Regions from separate parts of the Homo sapiens genome. Here region 1 is linked to region 2. Evidence: fine-mapped expression QTL. A gene starts in region 2. The other region holds a variant in brackets. All regions are shown on one strand. Distances are between the middles of the regions. Region 1 holds the start of HTRA4 (HtrA serine peptidase 4). Region 2 holds the start of ADAM32 (ADAM metallopeptidase domain 32).

Region 1 (2,841 bases), 130 kb before region 2:
AGCCAGAACATCGTTAATGTAGTTCAATATGAGATAAATTATTATCTTCAATGAAACAAGCTCTAAAAGCATTCCATTCCTAAATTGTATTTCAAACTTCCTATTTTGTTGATATTTCTTAACTTCTGGCCAGTTTTGGACCATAATCTTTTAATGTGAACCAAAGATGGTACGTATTTGACCAAAGCAGTTAGTTTTAAATGTATAAAATTGAACCAAATGGAAAAAATAGGTTGGGGATGCAGTATAGATTAGTGACTAAGTGCATAGGCTCTGGAGTAAATCTGAGTTTTTTTTTTTTTAAAGGAACTAAAAAATGTACTGCATTTTCTTTGTGGAATAAAAGCCTTGCCTGAGTTGTGCTATTTTCATAAGGCTTTTGAAGTGGTCTTGACCCACTGTGTGTAACAGTATTTCAGGTGGTCCTCCCCATGGCTGAATAATGCCATCCATTATTCTTTAATTTTTATTTTTAGAAACAGTGTTTCACTCTGTCACCCAGGCTGGAGTGCAGTGGCCTGATCATGGCTCACTGCAGCCTGGACCTCCTGGGCTCAAGTGATCTTCCTGCCTCACAGCCTCCCAAAGTACTCAGATTATAGGTGTGAGCCACCACGCCTGGCCACCATCTATTACTTTTGAAATCTTCAAAAGACTTGCTTACTCAATGTCAGCTGATGGTTGGTAAAAATAATTTGGCCTTTAGTGTTAAGTGAGACATCATAAGGGTATTGAGGTATACATTATGGAGATTGATGTCAGGTCAGAATATTGGAGTTATACATCTATTTCTGAGTTGAATACTCAGCTCCCACGAGAAAGAAAGTAGTTTTAAGGTCCAGCTTCTTAGTCTACTTGAAGCAAATTTTTTTTCTTTTATATTTCTGAATATAAATATACTCTTATATGGGCTAAAAAGACCCCATGAATAAATAGCAGGTTCAGTAGTTGAGGAGTGGAGTTTAGTAGGTTTGTTTTCAGTATAAATTAGATAACATGTGGAGGTCACAGCATTTTGGAAATTGAGTGTCCCCAAGTGAGCTTTGTTTATAAACTTTC[A/G]AAATGTCGGAAGTGGACAGGTTTGTTAAATCTTGTCTGCCAGCACCCTTTTCTTCCTTTGTTCCTTTTCCTCTCTGTGTTATTGCCTGCGGCAGCCAGTCCTTCATACTAGATAGAGTTCAGATAAAGCAAACGTTTGGCAAAAACATACTGTTTGACCTCCTCCCCCTCTGCTTATGAAGGGGTAGCATGATTCTGTGTTTTAAAGCAGTGATGTTTCAGCTGTGAAATGCACTCGCTGTAAGCTCTAGGCTGAGTGCATGGAAACTGTTACGCTTCTCATTTTATGTGATCTCCTAATTGGTATGTAGCAAAAATTTTCTAAAACTGTTTTGTGGCTTGTTTTGTAATAAAACCATGTGAAATACTGAAATATGGTCATGTGTTTTCCTAATACTGACCTTCTGACCATGGGTGGGTGAGCTTTCTTATCAGTCTGCCCTCATTGTCGGTTTTAGGGATTTCAGGAGGTAGGTTCCTGCTCCGGGTAGGGCTAGAGACCTTCCCCTCATTGCCTGGGGGAGAACCTGGCTCCGGGGCGCCGACGGGGGCGGGTGGTAGGGGATGTACGGGTGTGTATATGCAGAGGTATGCCAGGCTCTGCCCCTTAAAGTTTGGGGGCCGGCGGAGGCGGCGCCGTGGCCGGGAGAAAGTGTCTCTCATTTAGGAGGGTTTGCAGGTCCAGAGTAAAGTCACTGAAGAGTGGAAGCGAGGAAGGAACAGGATGATTAGACCTCAGCTGCGGACCGCGGGGCTGGGACGATGCCTCCTGCCGGGGCTGCTGCTGCTCCTGGTGCCCGTCCTCTGGGCCGGGGCTGAAAAGCTACATACCCAGCCCTCCTGCCCCGCGGTCTGCCAGCCCACGCGCTGCCCCGCGCTGCCCACCTGCGCGCTGGGGACCACGCCGGTGTTCGACCTGTGCCGCTGTTGCCGCGTCTGCCCCGCGGCCGAGCGTGAAGTCTGCGGCGGGGCGCAGGGCCAACCGTGCGCCCCGGGGCTGCAGTGCCTCCAGCCGCTGCGCCCCGGGTTCCCCAGCACCTGCGGTTGCCCGACGCTGGGAGGGGCCGTGTGCGGCAGCGACAGGCGCACCTACCCCAGCATGTGCGCGCTCCGGGCCGAAAACCGCGCCGCGCGCCGCCTGGGCAAGGTCCCGGCCGTGCCTGTGCAGTGGGGGAACTGCGGGGATACAGGTGAGCCGCGGGGGCGCGCGCCCTCGGAACACTTTCTAACTCTGGAGGAGCGTAAAGGAACAAGACCTCACTGAGACCGCACAGTTCGCGCCTGGTCCTCCTGCGTCATTTGCCTCCTGGATTCGACACCTCTGTGTTCCTGATTTCCTTTCCTCCTTAACAGGGGCTCTTTACCGGCTGCTACGTGGTTTCTCCCTCCCCATGCACCTTTTGAACACTGTCTTGCCTTTAACATTTTTCCAACTAGGATAGCAGGTCTGGTTCCCTCGAGGCGTACTCTTGAGCCAGTATTTTTTCATAGGGACCAGAAGCGCAGGCCCGCTCAGGAGGAATTACAACTTCATCGCCGCGGTGGTGGAGAAGGTGGCGCCATCGGTGGTTCACGTGCAGCTGTGGGGCAGGTAAAGGAGGAGGAGGAAGACCTCCACTGTCCCAGCTAATGGTTTCTGCGTGCCTACCTGCTCCAGACCCTTCGCAAGCGTCATTTAATCCTAAAAAACCAGTGAGGAAACTGAGACGTAAAGAGGTTGAATAACCTGTTCAAGGTCATTTAACCAAAGAGCAGAGGCACAAGGATGCTGACTTCTAAATC
Region 2 (2,907 bases):
ACGGGGTTTCACCATGTTGACCAGGCTGGTTTCAAACTCCTGACCTCTGGTGATCCAACCACCTCGGCCTCCCTAAGTGCTGGGATTACAGGCGTGAGCCACCTCACCTGGCCTGTTGCCTTGTTTTTGTTCATGCTATTAATTTCAGGTGTAGATTGCCCTGTTGAAATTGCGTGCATCCATAAAAATCACATCTTCACTTTAAATGTCTTAGTTCCCCAAGTGAGATTTTTCTCTGTTCCCATGAGGCCTTTTAGTTTATGTGTTGGCCTATTATGTAGTATGAGAAATTAATCCATTCTTTGGGATTTGAAAAGAATGAAAAGCTAATGCATACAGATGGAGACCAGGTGTGAGGCTGGGAAGGAGGAGGCATTGCAGTTCCAGGGAGTAAAGCAGTGTTTAGGAAAAACCCAAAGTCAGAGCTGCTAAAACACGGGATAGGAGAAATTAAGTGGCAGGTTCCGGTCTGAGTTCAGAAAAATTACTATGCTGAGGCTAGAATTTTCTACTGGAATGTAATTACTGTAATTGTGGGCAAGAATCTCTAAATCTTTCACTACATGAAATAAGTATTTATTGCACTGAGAAGTTTCTGAACAATAGAATGACATCACATGAGTTTTAGCCAATGGCCTGCGGAGAACCAGATTGGAGGAAAAAGCCTGGTTGTGAAGTCCATTTGGGCAGCGTCAGTGGGGAAAAAAATGCAGCTGGCGCTCTTCAAAAATATGAAGAGCTGGCATTTCATATTGAAAAGCGGCTCACTTTTCCCTTCTTTGGAATGTTCACACATCTGGCTAAATAGTTTTGAAAAAATATTAGAAACAGGTTTGGCAAATATGAATATATATTTAGGTGTGTATATAGATTTTAATTCAGAAAGTATTACACATTCGCTTTTGAAAGGACCTAGGAAGCCCCGAACGGTGGCAGATGCCTGTAATCCCAGCTACTCAGGAAGTTGAGGAGGGAGGATCACTTGAACCCAGGAGTTCGAGACCAGCCTGGGCAGAATAGTGAGCACCCCCGTCCCAAAAAGAAAAAAAAGCAACTGGGAAGTGTCTGGTGCAGGAGAGCACACGCTGACTGTGAATAAGTGTGTCAGTTCTTAAGGTCCAGCAACACAAAGCGAAAAGTTAGTGGAGGACTACGAGCGCGATCTCGACAGAGGGCGCTGGGTGGTCAGTGGCTCCAGCAACCACGCGGCTGGGGTGCGCCGGGAAGGGAGCTGGATGTTTTAGCCTCGGGGCGCACGCTGCGGGCCCTTCGTGTTCCGGACGCTAAACACCGAGAGCACCCCGTCTCCGGGGCCTCCGGAGAACGCTGTCCCATGAACGTGCGGGGAGCGGCCCCCGGCGTCCGCGCGTCCCCGCGTCCCTGGCAATTCCCGACTTCCCAACGGCTTCCCGCTGGCAGCCCCGAAGCCGCACCATGTTCCGCCTCTGGTTGCTGCTGGCCGGGCTCTGCGGCCTCCTGGCGTCAAGACCCGGTGAGCCAGCCCAGACCCTGACACTAGTCCGGGCGCTCGTCACACTGCGGCCCGACTCCCTGCAAAGCCCGGGGCCCTCCCTGTCTGGGTCCCTTTGGTCCTGTCACCCTGGCAACGGGGCCTTTTCCAGGGGATTAGGCGCCCCGTCCGGATGGAGAAGCGACTCAGGGCCCAGCACCAGGGCTCACGCCTGTAATCCCAGGGCTTTGAGAGACTGAGGCGAGCTGATTGTTTGACCTCGGAGTTGGAGACCAGCTTGGGCAACACAGCAAGACCCCATCTCTACAAAAAAATTTAAAAAAATGTTCCGAGGTGGTGGTGCGCACCTGTGATCCCAGCTACCCGGGAGGCTGAGGGAGGAGGACCACGTGAGTCCAGGAGGTGGAGGCTGCAGTGAGCCAAGATCGCCCCCACTGGACTCCAGCCTGGGCGACAGAGATCCTGTCTTTTTTATAAATTAAAAAAATTATTTTTGTGTGTGACCGAGTCCCTTCTGTCGCCCAGGCTGGAGTGCAGTGGGCAACAGTAGGCAACAGAGGGAGACTCCAGATCGTAGTTCTCCAGAACTATGAGGAAAATAAATTTCTGTTGTTTAAGCCATGCAGTCTACACTATTTTGTTATGGCAGTGGGAGCTGACTAATATAGTACTTAACAGCAAAATGATTGAAAAACTGTAAAAGTTCATTAGTAAGAGAACTGCTAAATAAACTGTGGTTATCTCCAAACAATGCAAATGGACCACTGTGGAGAGGGAGGAAGTAAGACATGCCATGTACTGACTCTGGCTGACAAGATTCAGAATAGTATGTAATAAGAGAAGGAAAAAAATACGGGCATATCCAAACATTTTACTTGCATGTAAGCCTCCCTGGTGATACTGTAAATTTTTGAGAACTCTTCCTACTCTTCTTCCTATCCTGCCATAATTACCTCTGCAGCATAGCAGAGGTGTGGTCAAGGCCAGGGTGTCAGCCTGGTTAGATTAGGGTGAGTGTTCTCTTCCTGGCTTGTAAACAGCTACCTTCTCCCTGCGTACTCACAGGACCTTTTCTTTGTGTACAGGGAAAGACAGGAGGAGGAAATTCTCTGATGTCTCATCTTATAAGGGCATGAATCTCATCATGAGGGTCCCACTCTATGCCTAAAACCCTGATTACCTCCCAAAGGCCATAACCAAATACTGTCACATTGGGGGTTAGGGATTCAACATAGAATTTTGTGGGATACATTCAGTTCATAACACATACAAAATTTTAATGCAGTGGTTGTCAAAGTTTTTGGGTTCAGAACTGCCTTATACATGAACAATTTTTGAGATTCTCAAAGAGCTTTTGTTTATGTGGATTTATATCGATGTTTAACATATTAGAAATTAAAATAGAAATGTAAGAATGTGTATTTCATTCATTAAAA

Evidence for each region. PIP is the estimated chance that this variant, and not a neighbour inherited with it, causes the effect.
Region 1: its variant is the best candidate, but not a certain one, in a credible set for the expression of ADAM32 in visceral fat (GTEx, PIP 0.67).

The regions. Positions count from the first base shown.
Region 1 is chr8:38,972,481-38,975,321 of GRCh38, forward strand. PLEKHA2 (pleckstrin homology domain containing A2) reads left to right here. Exons shown (of 12, transcript NM_021623.2): 12 at 1-1,432. HTRA4 (HtrA serine peptidase 4) reads left to right here and starts at 1,748. Exons shown (of 9, transcript NM_153692.4): 1 at 1,748-2,249; 2 at 2,551-2,650. The coding sequence starts at 1,784. RefSeq lists a silencer at 1,915-2,144 and an enhancer at 2,325-2,384. The variant A/G (reference allele first, on the strand shown) is at 1,060.
Region 2 is chr8:39,106,342-39,109,248 of GRCh38, forward strand. ADAM32 (ADAM metallopeptidase domain 32) reads left to right here and starts at 1,393. Exons shown (of 25, transcript NM_145004.7): 1 at 1,393-1,492. The coding sequence starts at 1,435.